2 separate regions of the Homo sapiens genome follow, and region 2 is linked to region 1. A link means that fine-mapping ties the variant in region 1 to the expression of a gene that starts in the linked region. Tissue or cell type: whole blood. Region 1 holds a variant in brackets; the other region holds the start of a gene. All regions are shown on one strand. Distances are between the middles of the regions.

The links. PIP is the estimated chance that this variant, and not a neighbour inherited with it, causes the effect.
Region 2: UEVLD starts here. The variant in region 1 is fine-mapped to the expression of UEVLD in whole blood (TOPMed, PIP above 0.99).

What each region holds. Positions count from the first base shown.
Region 1 is chr11:18,466,365-18,474,364 of GRCh38, reverse strand. All of the region lies in intron 3 of LDHAL6A (lactate dehydrogenase A like 6A), which reads right to left. Among named protein-coding and RNA genes, the nearest start is that of LDHAL6A, 15 kb to the right of the region's middle. The variant C/G (reference allele first, on the strand shown) is at 4,293.
Region 2 is chr11:18,585,479-18,593,608 of GRCh38, reverse strand. UEVLD (UEV and lactate/malate dehyrogenase domains) reads left to right here and starts at 4,875. Exons shown (of 12, transcript NM_001040697.4): 1 at 4,875-4,996. The coding sequence starts at 4,955. It overlaps LOC112268073 (a long non-coding RNA gene), which reads left to right. Exons shown (of 4, transcript XR_002957242.2): 3 at 2,768-3,073; 4 at 3,329-3,516. RefSeq lists enhancers at 4,758-4,807, 4,713-5,007, 5,068-5,127, 5,168-5,317, 5,718-5,827.

The sequences.
Region 1 (8,000 bases):
TGACTCACGCCTGTAATCCCAGCATTTTGGGAGGCCGAGGCGGGTGGATCACGAGGTCAGGAGTTTAAGACCAGCCTGGTCAACATGGTGAAACCCCATCTCTACTAAAAATAAAAAAATTAGCCAGGCGTGGTGGTGGACACCTGTAATCCCAGCTACTTGGGAGGCTGAGGCAGAAAATTGCTTGAACCCGGGAGGTGAAGGTTGCAGTGAGCCGAGATCACACCATTGCACTCCAGCCTGGGCGACAGAGCAAGACTCCGTCTCAAAAAGAAAAGAAAATGAGAAAGAAAAATACTTTAAGAAGAAGCTTCACCCCAGAAATGCAAAGGTGGTTCAATATCAAAAAATCTGTCAACATATTACATCAGATGAGATTTAAAGAAAAAGATAGATATGATCATTTTAACTGTAGGAAAACTCATTCAGGGATTAAAAAATAAAACTAAATCTAGGAACAGAAGGAAACTGCTTTTTATCTTAAAAAGGTATCTATCAAAATCCAAAGCAAACATACATTATGAAGAAAACTTAGAAGCCTTTTCATTAAAGTCAGAAACAAGACAAGGATACCCACTATCACTGTTTCTGTTTAACATTATACTGGAGAGTCTTCTAGGTTATGCAATAGGACAAGGGAGAAAAAAACTACCAAGAATAAACCAAGGCCAGACACGGTGGCTCACACCTGTAATCCCAATTCTTACAGGGAGGCTGAGGTGGGAGGATCACTTGAGACTTGGAGTTTGAGACCAGCCTGGGCAACATAACAAGACCGCGTCTCTACAAAATGTAAAAAGTAGTCAAGTGTGGTGGCATGCACCTTTAGTCCCAGATACTTGGGAGGCTGAGACAGGATCACTTGAGCCCAGGGGTTCAAGGTTACAATGAGCTATGGTTGTGCCACTGCACTTCAGCATAGGTAACAAAGCAAAAGCCTGTATCTATCTGTCTGTCTGTCTGTCTGTCTGTCTACCTACCTACCTTCATCTATCAATTAGTTTTTATAAACAGACCAAAGTCCTTATTTGGAGATGGTAGAATTATCTAATAGAAAACTGCTAATGCCTACTTGCCTGGGACTTTGAGGAGCTACTATAGGAGCAATTATTTTGTTTACTAAAACTGAATACCTTGCTATCTCTTTGATACATGTTTACAAAGCCTGGGTAAAAATGGTATAAATTACTTTTGAACCACCTCTACATTCTGAGGGTTTCAGCAGGACAATGAAGAGGTGTTCTATGTATAGAATTTGCAATATCAAAAATAAGAAAATACTCGTAAGTGAGGAAATGTGTTGGGTTTTTTTTTTAAGTGTAGTAGGACAATATTTCACAAATCATTCTACAAAGTGATTGTCCTGCTATTTCTGCAGTTTCAAAATAGGTGGTTTTTAGAGCCATTCACATAAATTTCCATTAATGAAGTCAAAATTATTTGGGGAAAAACAGGTAAGGTAAAGAGTTCACTTTCATATTATTTGAATTAAACCTCTTTTATTTTCTTACAGGCTCAGTCTTTAAGTAATAAAGTAGCAGCTTTCAAGTAAATGAAGTGTCTAAAATAAATATTGATTCAACTCTTATTTGAAAAATCTATTTGTTCTTGTTTTAGATGATTAGAATAGTATTTTAGGCATTTGTTGGTACCTTTTCCATTTGGTTGAACTTTTAACTTAGCTTTATGTAATAACTCATACTTTAAAAATAATAAATGCATCAAATTCTATCCTAAACATATGAAGACAATTTAAGATTCAGAATCCTGTAGTGGATCTCTGTGAAGGACATAATTTCTAATTTGTCTTTTTTGTAAATCCATATTTTTTATGGCAGATTTAAGTACTCAAATAGTAGAAATTAGACACTTTAAAAAGATATGAAGATGACATCTTTTGTCCTCTGAAACAGTGTTTTCTAAACAGGTAATATTTCCATTAATGTAAAAGTTAGAGCTTCTGTTCCCTGTTTAATATCCATTGATGGTAAAAAGTGATACTGAAACAGTCTGATCATACCACTATTTTAAATGGTAAGCATTCATTCTAATACCTGAGATGGAGAGAAGTATGGTAGAAATGTCTTTAAGTTTCCTCATACATAAAGCTGTCAAGTGAAGAACCTCGGTTAGTCATCCTGGGCCTTAAGAGGTTCGTCAACTGCCACTGAAACTCAAGGGGATTGGGGGACCTCTGCCAGGCCCTGGGTCTGGAACAGAGAATGTGACCTGTTTTAATTGGTAAACTGAAAACAGAGCAAGTAACTCAGCTGTGTCCCAGGGTACCCAACCGCATTTTCTAGGTAAATGACTATAGATTTGAAGAAAAGGTTAAACTTTTCCTAAATCTTTGATCTTCAATTGTTTAGGTTATCTTCCTGTATTATTTTACATCCCCTCCCTTACCGTACTGCCCTCTAAATTTTCCATTTTCCACTTCCATTTGGTCATTTAGTTCATGTAAATAGTTACTGGAACTTTTTAATTTGTAAAAAAAAAAAAAAAATCCTAAATACTCTTAAATCAACAATTACAAACCTTCATAAGCCATTCTGGGTAGATTTTTGTTCTTTTGGAAAAAATTTTTTTTTTTTTTTTTTTTAATAGAGACAGGGTTTCACCATTTTGCCCAGGCTGGTCTTGAACTCCTGGGCTCAAGCAATCCTCCCGCCTCAGCCTCCCAAAGTTCTGGGATTACAGGTGTGAACCACCACGCCCAGCCTCATTCTGAACAGTTTTGAAATTAATACCTAGTATTTGTCATGTCTTGTGCTCCACATTTCCACAGTAATAAACTAAAATGCTATATTAAAATAATGTCAACAGTGTGTTTTTGTAACTGAAATAAGATCTGTATGCAGGCGTGGCGGTTCACGTCTGTAATCCCAGCACTTCGGGAGGTCAAGGTGGGTAGATCACTTGAGGCCAGGAGTTCAAGACCAGCCTGGGCAACATGGCAAAACTCCAGCTCTACTGAAAATACAAGAATTAACTGGGCATGATGGTGTGCGCCTGCAATCCCAGCTACTTGGGAAGCTGAGGCACGAGAATCACTTGAACCCAGGAGGCGGAGGTTGCAGTGAGCCAAGTTTGCGCCACTGCACTCCAGCCTGAGCAACAGAGCAAAACCCTCTCTCAAAAAAAAAAAAAAAAACTTCTAAAGTTTAGTTTTACAATTCTACCACTACATGGACAAAATTATGCACTTAGGTAAGATAAATTAATATTTAACATAAATAAGAAACCCTTACTAATTGCTTGTTTTAATTTTTAAAATTTCACATTCATATCAGCATAATAAAATATCATATATAAACTAAAAGTCTGAAAATAGACTGCAGTAGGTCAGTTACTGAAAATAAAACACTGTTGAAATGTGGCCAGGCGCTGTGGCTCACGCCTGTAATCCCAGCACTTTGGGAGGCTGAAGTGAGCGGATCTCTTGGGGTTAGGAGTTTGAGACCAGACTGGCCATCATGGTGAAACCCCGTCTCTACTAAAAATACAAAAATTAGCTGGGCGTGGTAGTGCACGCCTGTAATTCCAGCTACTTGGGAGGCTGAGGCAGGAGAATTGCTTGAACCCGGGAGGTGGAGGTGGCAGTGAGCCGAGATCACGCCACTGCACTCCAGCCTGGGCAACAGACCAAGACTCCATCTCAAAAAAAAAAAAAAGTGTGCTAGGTAAATAGGTAAATGTGAGTATTGCTATAAAGTTAGTAATGTTTAAAAAATAGCACCACAATCATCATAACTATTAATACATTTAGTTTTTATCCATGATTTGCCAAAATAAAAATTGGCACATCCTTGAAAGGGAGATTTCTAAAGGAACTTAAGAACTTCTAAAAGTGTCTCTGGTGATTCATTTAAATGATACTTACTTTTCCTGACCTTAAAACTCTGATTTGAACTTGCACTCCATTTTGTAGTGATGCTACCTATACATATTACACATGTGTGAAGCCTTTACTACAGAACCACCAAAACCAGGCCTTGAGGACTGTGGAGACACGGGAGCTGCATCTGAAGGCAGTCCTGCATGGGAATTAGTACCTACGCCTGAGAAACCCCTCTCTACCCAGATTGCTCTCAGAATTGCCTTTTCTTTCACTAAAATTTTAGCTAAATATTATCATTCAGTGCCACGCGGTGGCTCACGCCTATAATCCCAGCACCTTGGGAGGCCAAGGCAGGCAGATCATTTGATGCCAGGAGTTCAAGACCAGCCTAACATGGTAAAACCCCATCTGTACTAAAAATACAAAAATTAGCTGGGCATGGTGGCACATG[C/G]CTGTAATCCCAGCTACTTGGGAAGCTGAGGCATGAGAATTGCTTGAACCTGGGAGGCGGAGATTGCAGTGAGCCGATATTGCATCACTGCACTCCAGCCTGGGTGACAGACAGAGACTCTGTCTCAAAAAAATAAATAAAATTATCATTCGGGGGGGAAAAAATCTTTCCTGAGTGGTATCAATTTTTGGTAGCTTAATACTAATTTAAAGTTGTCAGTTTTTGTTTTTGTTTTTGTTTTGTATTAGAGTAATGAAGTTAATTGTTTCTCTTAACTTTTGAAGCACCTGAAATTTTGAAGATGGTTCTTAGTGGACCATTTTAACAGACTCACTAAAATAATGGAGAAGACTTTCTTCACATGGTTCTAATATCAGAATAAGTTTTCTAAATAGATATGGAAGATATATTTGATAGTGTGTACTATAACTGCATACACTGTCAAGCAAATACAGAACTAAGCTGTTAAATCATTTGAGATTGAGATTTTTTTATTTTTCCTTATTTTTACTGCTGTTAATGGCAGACAGCCAGTATATAAAATGTAGAAAGAGTATCCTCTGAATGTGCTTATTAGAAATATTAGTCAATAAATTAAATATTCTTTAATAGACTTCTGCCATAATGCATAGAGAAGCATCTTTTGCTAATGTACACTTCTAAAATCTGTGGTGGGAGTGTGGTGGGCCAGTTAATGTTGCCAAGCAAGTGATGCTTAATTTGTTTTTCCTAATTTGTTATCATATAACCTTAATGACGCGGTACTTTGAGGGTAGAGGCGTTTTAGTGCAAATCAAAGTAGGTTGGGGATTCACTTAACACAAACAGTAAATGTGAACTTACTGTCCCCACAGACTTCAGTGCCCTGAACGGTTAGAGAAATTAATGAAGGAGCTCCACCAGGTGCCTTCACAACTCTGAGTCATATCAGAATCTCTCCACAGCTCTCCTTTCAAAAATGACACCGTGACATTTCAGGATGTGAAAAAACTTACTGGAAAGTGTGTAAGAAAATATAAAATACTATTGTACAATGTGATAATGTATCATCAGCTTGTTATTTTCAGTGTGCTTCCTTGTAGCGCCGGACTACCATTTCTGAATTTTGGATTTGGTATTTTTTTTAAAGAATCAAACTCTTAAAAGAGGAAATGCTTATACCAATAGCCTGTATGAAGCAAAATTTATGTGAAAGCTAAAGATATGCATGCAGTTAAATATATAAATAAATCTCAATGCCATACAAAAAGAACTTTTGATAATCTATGAACTATTTTAAAAAAGAAAAAACAGCCTCAAACTTATGGGATACCGTTAAACACACCAACATATATATGCATGTATGGTAGGACCAGAAGGAAGGGAGAGGAGCAGAAAATTATTCAAAGAAGTAACAGCTGAAACTTCCCAAATAGAAAAACATTATACATCCAAGCCGGGTGCAGTGGCTCATGCCTGTAGTCCCAGCACTTTGGGAGGCTGAGGTGGGCAGATCAGTTCGGGTCAGGAGTTCAAGACCAGCCTGGCCAACATGGAGAAACCCCGTCTCTACTAAAAATACAAAAAGTTAGCCAGGAGTGGTGGTGGGTGCCCATAATCCCAGCTACTCAGGAGGCTGAGGCACAAGAATCACTTGAATCCAGGAGGCGGAGGTTGCAATGAGCCGAGATCATGCCACTGCACTCCAGTCTGGGCCACAGGGCAAGACTCCATCTCAAAAAAAGAAAAAAAAAAAAACCTATACATCCAAGCTGCTCAATGAATGCCAAGTGGTATAAACTGAAAGACATTCACACTTCAACACATCATAGTCAAACTGTTACAAGCCAAAGAGAAAATACTGGAAACAGCAAGAGAAAAACAACTTATTAAATACAAAAGAACCAAAATGAATCAGCAGTAATCCCTATCAAAATCCTTGCTGGTTTTACTTCAGAAATTGACAAGCTGATACATAAATTCATATGGAAATGCTAAAGATCCAGACAAGCAAAATATATATATATATATGTATATATATATACGTATATATATGTATATATATATACGTATATATATGTATATATATACGTATATATATGCATATATATACGTATATATATACGTATATATATACGTATATATATATGTGTGTGTATATATATATGTGTGTGTATATATATATATATATATATATATATATATATATATATGTGTGTATATATATATATTTTTTTTGAGACAGTCTTGCCCTGTTGCCCAGGCTGGAGTGCAGTGGTGCGATCTCAGCTCACTGCAGCCTCTGCCTCCTGGGTTCAAGCGATTCTCTTGCCTCAGCCTCCCAAGTAGCTAGGATTACAGGTGTGCACCACCATGCCCAGCTAATTTTTGTATTTTTAGTAAAGATGGGATTTTGCCATGTTGGCCAGGCTGGTCTTGAACTCCTCACCTCAGGTGATCCACCTGGCTCAGCTCCCAAAGTGCTGGGATTCCAGGTGTGAGCCACCACGCCTGACCCAAAATAATCTTAAAGAATAGTCAGAAGACTTAATACATCCTGATTTCAAAACTTACCACAAAGCTACAGTAATCAACATATTTATAAATACTACTATGGAGTTGAGCTTCATGATATATTAAGTTAAAAATGAAAGAAGATGGAGAAAAACGTATGTAGTAACAAAAAGCTGTAAACCATAAAAAGTGTAAATGGTTACCTATAAAAGGATGGAGGCTATAGGGGAAAGGGCACAGGGACAGAAGCTGGACCACTTTGAATAATTCCTGTTCTCTAGAATTGATGTTGGAGCCATGTGAATATTTTATAAAACTGTGAAACAAAAGTTAAATAGTTCTTCAGCATCGAAATTAAAATGAATAAACTTAATCATGCACTCACTGTTGGTCTGCACAGAGAAAAACTACTCCAAATAATTTTAGAATACAGTAATTTGAATATCCCTAAACTACTAAGCTCCAGACTCATAATCTCTAGCTGTTTGACATTTCCTCTTGAGTATCATTTCAGGTATCTTGATTTTTCCCCTCTATATGTAACATCCCTGCCTCCTTCCCTCACTGACTCCCACCCGATCAGTAAATTTACCAACCCAGTTAAATGGAACTACCATCCCTTCAGTTACTCAAAGGAAAAACTCTCGAAGTTATTTTTTATTCCTCCCTTTCTCTCACTAGACATAATCTATCAGCAGTCCTGCACATTTTATCTCCGAAGTCTATTTTCAGTTTGTCCACCTTGTAAATGCACCAGTGAGGAGTCTAGTACAATTTTGGAGAGTCAGGCAGTAAACTATAGCCCTACTTTCACTTCTCAAACAGTAATTTGGAAAACAAACCTCAGCCTTTAGAATATAAACCTTGAACTCATATGATTAAGCATATTATCTTCCCATACACACTACTTTTTTTTTTTTTTTTTTTTGAGACAGGGTCTCACTGTGACCCAGGCTGGAGTGCAGTGGCGCAATCATGGCTCACTGCAGCCTTGACCTCCCTGGCTGAAGCAATCCTCCCGCCTCAGCCTCCTGAGTAGCTGGGACTACAGGAATGCTCCACCATGCCCTGATAATTTTTGTATTTTTTTGTAGAGATGGAGTTCTGTCATGTTGCCCAGGCCATTCTCAAACTCCTGGATTCAAGCACTTCACCCACCTTGGGCTCCCAAAGTGCTGGGATTACAGGCTTCAGCCACTGCATCTGGCCTCACAC
Region 2 (8,130 bases), 120 kb before region 1:
GGAGGCAGAGGTGGGTGGATCACCTGAGGTCAGGAGTTCGAGACCAGCCTGACCAACATGGTGAAATCCTGTTTCTACTAAAAATTCAAAAATTAGCCAGGTATGGTGGTGCACACCTGTAATCTCAGCTTCTCGGGAGGCTACAACAGGAGAATCACTTGAACCCAGGAGGCAGACGTTGCAGTGAGCCAAGATTGTGCCACTGCACTCTAGCCTGGGCGACAGAGCAAGACTCCATCTCAAAAAAAAAAAAAAAAAAGAAGTATATGATAAGAATACATATATGTGTGATATCTGGAATAACAAGGTTTTGTCCCCTAATATGTCTGCTAGGGCCAATAATCATGAAAGCAACAAAGGGTATAAAGAGAGATCAGAAGTACAGCACCAAAAAAAAAAAAAAACAAGCTCTAATTTTAAACAAGCCATTTTTGTGTTTTTTCTAAAACTTACAAAGATGCAGCATATACACTTTTCCCATTTCTTAGTTTGGGACATTTTTGCCCCTTTTAACATTATTAACATCTTTGTACATATATCCTGAGTACTTTTATTTCTGTAAGACAGATTCCCAATGTGGCATTATGGGGTCAAAGGTCCAAGACTACTCTGCCCAAAGGTTGTAGCAAATTATGATCCCACCAACGACACTTGGGGTCTAGCAGACTTCAGTAAATCTACAAACATTCCAGAAACTGGACACAAAACAAACTGTATACATGAGTATGTATACAGGGACAGGTCTATATCTTCAACAGATTTTTTTTTGAGACACGATCTTGCTCTGTCACCCAGGCTGGAATGCAGTGGCACAAACACAGCTCAGTGCAGCCTCAGCCCCCTGGGCGCAAGAGATCCTCCTGCTCTAGTTTCCCAAGTAGCTGGGATTACAGGTGTGCACCACCATGCCCGGCTAATTTTTAAATTTTTTGTAGAGTTGGGTCTACAAAACAGACTGGTCTCAAACTCCTGGGCCGAAGTGATCCTCCTGTCTTAGCCCCAGAGTGTTGGGATTACAGGAGTGGGCCACTGAGCCCGGTCTCAACAGACGTTTTAAAAAAAAGTCTGAAGCCCAGATAAGGCTGAGAACTAGTACACTATACCTTCTTCTCCTTAAGGCATTGATCACCTTATACGTTCATTCATTCTGCAAACTTTCCACTGCAGGTTCTTTATATCTGGCTTTCTACATATAAGAAGGAATATATGCATAAATAATTATGCTAGGCACTGGGAATATAGAGATGAATGAGATTCAACCCCTATTTGCCAGGGCCTTACAGTATCTGAGGACAGAAAGAGGAGTGGAGATGGAGGTAGACAGGTACAAAAGTATAATAAAACACTCCTGGCAGCTACTAAGGTATGAGGCAAGGAAGAAGACAATGTACTTGGGGAAGAGTGAATGTTTCAGCCTAACTGGATTATAGGATCTAATAGCACCAGTTTCAGGAGATGAGGGTAGCCTGGTGGTCAGGATGGAAGTCAAGGGAGAGGCTTAAAAAAAAAAGCCAATTTCAGTACTACACAGCCTTTCTCTTGTAACTGCATAGCAATATAAGCACATAATTCAGACTTTGTAGACCTTTTTTTTTTTGATGGAATCTCACTCTGTTGCCCAGGCTGAATACAGTGGCAAGATCTCGGCTCACTGTAACCTCTGCCTCCCAACTTCAAGCAATTCTCCCTCCCTCAGCCTCCCAAAGAGCTGGGATGAAAGGCACCTGCCGCCACATCCAGCTAATTTTTGTATTTTTAGCAGAGATGAGGTTTCGCCATGTTAGCCAGGCTGGTCTCGAACTCCTGACCTCAGATGATACGCCTGCCTGGGCATCCCAAAGTGCTGGGATTACAGGCATGAGCCACCACACCTGGCTGATTTCCTAGACTATTATTAATCACAAAGTGTCATCACAATTTCACCCACAGTGAGAGGCACTATAACATGTAGTTTAGGAAGACAGTCTTTGACATCATCTTCTGCAGTAATTTAACCTTAGTCTTTGGTTTCCCTATCTGTAAAATGGAGACAATTATATACATATCCTCTATTTCACATTTACATTCTTTTCAAATAGGTGTGTTAAAATCAGTATGTATGTTTAATTTTGTAGTTTTCTTCTCCCCCCAAAAGCTATCATTAATACATCTCTTATTCAACAGAACCTCAGAAACAAGTAAAATAGGTAATATAACAATACACCTCAATTTTCTTATCAGTAAAATTGAGGTAATAATTCTATCCAGGTCATAGGGTCTTATGAAGATGAACGGAGATAAAGCACATAAAACTCTTAGCAGTATACCTTCCACAAAGGAAATGCTACATACACACACACACACTCACTCACTCACACTCTCTCTGGCATAAAGTGTGCATAGTGACTAGACCAGAAGAGAATTGGTTTGGTTGGAAGGCCTCTTTCATAAAAGGCTCTTTCATAAAAGATGGAAGAATCTTGCTCTGGCCTTGCTGCTAACTGGTATCTTTTCCTTATACCACGGATTTCTGGCAGGATCTATTAGAATTTGGAGCCCCTGGCAGTTCTACTGTTTTAAGGTTGGTTAGATCTGGCTGAGATGCACTTAACAGCCCTTCTATCAGCTTTTCTCTGTAATCTTCCTCCTACCTTGTCTTCTGGCCTACTCTTGCCTGACACTACTGCCTCTTCACAACACTGCAGAGTTATTAATATTTTTTTAAAGCTCAGTCAGATCATGTCACTGTTCTGTTCGAAACCTCCCAGTGGCTTTCTCTTTCTCCCAGATTAAAAGCCTGAGAAAGGAAGAGGCAGGCCCTGACATCTGAGAGCTGGTCTGACACAGCTAGACTTCAGGGTTGTTAGAAGCTGGCCTGATGCTCACAGCTTGGCCCAGTTATTCTTCTGTGGGACATAATCTCACAGAACACCAACATGAGACAAGGTCAGTCAGACTATAAAAAAGGGACACAACAACAAGGCCATTTCAAAATTGTGTCTAAGCAGAGACAAGAGAGCAAGGTCACTGTGCAAGCCATGAAATACCAAACGTCCTTCTCTGCTATTATGAGTGACTGCTGCTTCTTTACTAGGTATAGCTTTATCCTCACTCTAGTCTGTCCATCTTATAGACAATACTTATTCAGATACCTAGTCACAGAAATGTCCCTGCTTTCTGACAGCACCCAATCCAGGGTGAAGCCTGGCTTTCTTGAGCCCTCCCGCAAATCGCCCAAATTCTATAATAGGTTCTCTCACCCTCACCAAGCTGTCCCAATGGTCCTCCACAACACCTGCTTCCTCACTGCAAGAACTATTAATAATGAACTCAACTTGTTTAAGCACAGGTGTGTTCCTGATGGTCTCTGGCTGGAGGGCAGGGACAGGCCAGAGTCCTTACAATTGTCTACAAAGTCCCACAGTGGTTCTTGGACTTCATCACCCATCAGAATCATCTGGAAGAATTGTTAAAAGAGAATTGCTGGTCCCCAACCCCAGAGCCTGTGATTGAATAAAGCTGGGGTTGAGGTCTTAGCATCTGCATTTCTAACAACTCCCAGCACCTGAGGCTGCAGATCTGGGGCTCACACTAGAAGACTCACTTCTCTAAACCACTTGTTCCCCCGTCTTATTTCCCTGACTTAGCCTCCTTGTCTCCACTCCCATCTTACTTCATTCTACTCCAGCCACACTGGCCTCCTTGCTGTGTTGAGCCTCCCTGGGCACATGCCTTAGGCTACTGCTTTGTCTGCACTCGGATTCGTAACACTTACTCCCTCACCCCTCAGTGAGACCTACCCCAATCTCCCTACCCTTTTCAGAATTTATTCTCCACAACACGTAATCAACCTTCTGACATGCTGAATAATTTACTTATTACATTTATTGTTTTGCTCTCTCTCTGCTAATAAAGGAATGACACCCTTAAGACATCAGCTATCTGAGTGTATTTTGTTCACGGCTGTATCCTGAGACCTGGAAAAATAGCTGGCAAGTAGTAGATGCTCAACAAAAACTTTCTGAATGAATGTTCCTTCCAGCTTTTCAGCTTCTTCTCCTGAGTCAGGGCAGCACTCCCTTCAGATCTTCCTATAAATACAATCTCTCTCCTATATGTCCAACCTCTTGACAATTACAATATCCAGCTCCTGGGACTTTTCGCTTCAGTGGCTCAGGCCAGGGATACAGGGCAGGTAAGTCAGCCATGGGCCAAGGAGATCAAACAACGCCAGAAAATTACTGTATCCTGCATCTCTTCTTCACCCACCTTCTCCAGATGACCTTATCCACCCATCTCCCTCCTCTCTTGTTTTCCAACTATTTGTTCACCTGGATTTCTCCTCTCTTTGACCACCAACATTGTTATGGCACCCCTAAAAAAAATAAAAAAAGCAACCACTCTCCCCGTGCTAAGCCACCCTCATGCTGGGGCTGTCCTATCTCCGCTTCTCCGGCAAGGCTCCTCCTGACTTTGTTTTTCCTTTCTACTCCCTGAAATTTTGCTTCTGAAGTTCCATTACCGCCTCCTTCCTAAATTCAACTGCAATTTTCGGTCTTGCTCTTTCCTGATACACTGTGGAATTTAATACATCTGTCTGGAAACTCTTCAAGAACACCGCGTGTTGCCTCTACCTCCTTTAGTGCTTCTACTCCGGTCCTTCCTAGTCTTCTCTTCATAAGTGTCCCCAAGTTTCCTTCCAGGAAGATGGGTCGTGGTTTCCTTGACGCCAATGCGTTTCTGGCCGTGCCCTCGTCACTTGCCCACTCCGGGGTCACGAAGGAGAGGCCCCGGATTCCGGGCGCAGCCGCGGCTGAGCCCGGGGCGTTGAATGCGGGTGGAATTTCCAGTCTGGGAAGGGGCGGGGCCTTGGACCGCCGGGAAGTTTGGTCCTCAGCGGCTTCCGTCCTGCAGCAAGTCCGGAAGAAGGTCCGGGGGCTGGAGTCCTGGGACCTAGCTCGGGACCGGCCTGGAGATGGAGTTCGACTGCGAGGGCCTGAGACGGCTGCTTGGCAAGGTGCGGGCAGTCCGCTGGGCCAGTTTGGGTCCTCAGGGTCTTGCGGGGGGTGCCTCTGCCTTTGGCCAGGTTGCCTCCGTTTTGCGTTTCCCGGCTTGTAGTGGGGCTTGGAGCCGGGGCGGCTGGTCTGAAACCGGCTATGGGGCGCGGCCCCAGGGAGGCTGAGGGGACCTGGATTCTGATTTCTCCCGCAACTCTGAGGTTTCCCAACCTCCACCTGGTGCGAGCCCTCCTCATACCCCCAGCTTCACTGACCTCAAACAGCTCCCAGCACACGCCTAACCACGCCTTTCTCTCTTTCTCTCTGCTGAAATGGTCTGCCTTTTTTTTCTTTTTTCTTGAATTGCAAAGCTCATCCTTTGTAAGACCCAACTCAGTCACTCCCTGTAAGATTGAATCAACCCTTCTGTTTTGAAAGATATCGATTATCACATTGTGGAGTAATTATGTATTTACAAACCGTAATCTTGCTGTGAGCCCCTTTGACTGCAGACATTGTGCTTTTGTATTCCCTTCCTCTAGCCACTATGTTTGACAACACCATAGGTACTAAGTAACTGTGCAGTGAATGAAAGACCTGAGTAGATTTAGAGATGAAGACAGAGCTTGAAGGCCCTGGAGAGATCTTAATGTTGGAAGGCTGGGGAGTAGGCGGGCCGACCTAGAAATCTGACCTATATTTCTGAGACCTGACTAGCCTGAGTTTCCGGTGTACAATCTGAGGGAATCCCCGCCAATTTTCTAGTTAAGAAGACTAGTTTTCACCAGTTTCCTAGTTAAGGTGGTTTTTTGTTTTTTGTGTTTTTTTTTTTGACAGAGTCTTGCTCTGTCCCCCAGGCTGGAGTGCAGTGGTGCGATCTAGGCTCACTGCAACCTCCACCTCCCGGGTTCAAGCCGATTCTCGTGCCTCAGCCTCCCAAGTAGCTGGGACTACAGGCGCGTGCCACCATGCCTGGCTAATTTTTGTATTTTAGTAGAGATGGGTTTTCACCATGTTGGCCAGTCTGGTCTCGAACTCTTGACCTCAAGTGATCCACTCGCCTGAGCCTCCCAAAGTGGTGGAATTACAGGTATGAACCACCGCACCCGGCCTTAAATAATTCTTAATGCTTCTTAAGACTTCCTAATGCAGAAACCATAGTTTATGCCATTTTTGTTATACTTGCCTCTTTCTTTGTTGGGGCAGTTTACATACCCGTGGGAGGTTTTGAAGTCCTAAGATTGAAATTGTTTATGTAAGTGACTTGAATGAATTTATCTACTGCGACAGGTGCAGATCTTGTAGGAAGAGAAGTATCATAATGCTACCCTTTCTGTCTCCTCTTCAGAGCATGTGAAATTAAAAGAACCATTCAAGTTTTAATGTGCAGAGGATGATGGATTGTCCGATGGGAAGAATTGTTCAAGTTAAGATTCAAACATAGAGCATATTTTTGGTGGCACTGGAATGAAGGAAAAGAAGAGAGACAATGGTTTTTTCAAGGGTGAGAGTAGAATAGTAGAGGATTTTTTTTTCCCCATCAGTGCATAGCATAGAGTCTGGCACATAGGTAGCTTATTATTATTATTACTGTTTGTTTTGAGACGGAGTCTCGCTCTGTCACCCAGGTTGAAGTGCAGTGGCGCGATCTCTGCTCACTGCCATCTCCGCCTCCTGGGTTCAAGCGATTCTCCTGCCTTAGCATCCTGAGTAGCTGGGACTACAGGCGCCCACCACCAAGCCCGGCTAATTTTTTTTGTATTTTTAGTAGCGACGAGGTTTCGTCATATTGGCCAGGCTGGGGTAGCTTATTATTAATAAGTATTTGTTGGCTGTATAAATTAAGGAAACCAATCAGAAACAAGTCAGTGCAGCAAATATATGAAGTTTCCTGACCATTCACTGCAGTCTGCAAATAATATTGTTTAATATCTAGAAATAATTTTAGTCTAGGCACAGTTACTCATGCCTGTAGTCCCCGCTACTTGAGAGGCTGAGGCAGGAGAATAGCTTGAGCCCTGGTGTTTGAGTATGCAGAGAGCTATGATTGTGCCACTGCTTGCCAGCCTGGGAGACAGAACGAGACCGTGTCTCTAAAAAGTAGAAATAAATGTAAGGCCAGGCACGGTAGCTCACGTCTGTAATTCCAGCACTTTGGGAGACCGAGGCGGGTAGATCACCTGCGGCCAGGAGTTCGAGATCGGCCTGTCCAACATGGTGAAACCCCATCTCTACTAAAAATACAAAAAAATAAGCCAGGCGTGGTGGCCCGCTCCTGTAATCCCATCTACTCGGGAGGCTGAAGCAGGAGAATCACTTGAACCTGGGAGGTGGAGGTTACAGTGGCCCAAGATCGTGCCACTGCACTCCAGCCTGGGCAACAGAGGGAGACCCCATCTCAAAAAAATAAAAAAAAATGAATTTAAAATTTTTTAAAACTTAGAAATAATTTTGTTGCAGAAAAAATCGATGGAGAAGTGATCAGTACATTAAAAAATTAAGCAACTATGGAGAAAGTAAAAAATCTAATTAAATAGATATCCCAGTTTCATAGATGTGAAGATTGTCAGTTCTCTCCAAATTTATCTATAGGGTCAATGCATTTCTTGGAAACTTCAAACTGATTCTAAAATTCATTCAGAAGAGCAGAAGGCCAAGGATAACCTTGACATTATTATGGAAAAAAAATAGATATGAGGGCTGGGTGTGGTGGCTTACGCCTCTAATCCCAGCACTTCGGGAGGCCGAGGTGGGCGGATCACTTGAGGTCAGGAGTTCAAGAGCAGCCTGGCCAACATGGTGAAACCTCGTCTCTCCTAAAAAATGTAAAAACTGGGCATGGTGGTGGGCACCTGTAACCCCAGCTACTTGGGAGGCTGAGGCAGGAGAATCGCTTGAACCCAGGAGACAGAGGTTGCAGTGAGCTGAGAATGCGCCACTGCACCCCAGCCTGAGCCACAGAGCAATACTCTGTCTCAAAAAAAAAAAAATAATAATAATAAAGAAGGAAAGAATAGATGATAGATTTGAGGACCTGCTCTACCAAATATCAGTACTACGGCAAGTAAAATTTAGTGTGGCATTGGTGTGGAATAGACTAACCAGTGAAACAGACTAAAGGGCTTAGAATCGTAGTCACACATGTTTGGAAATG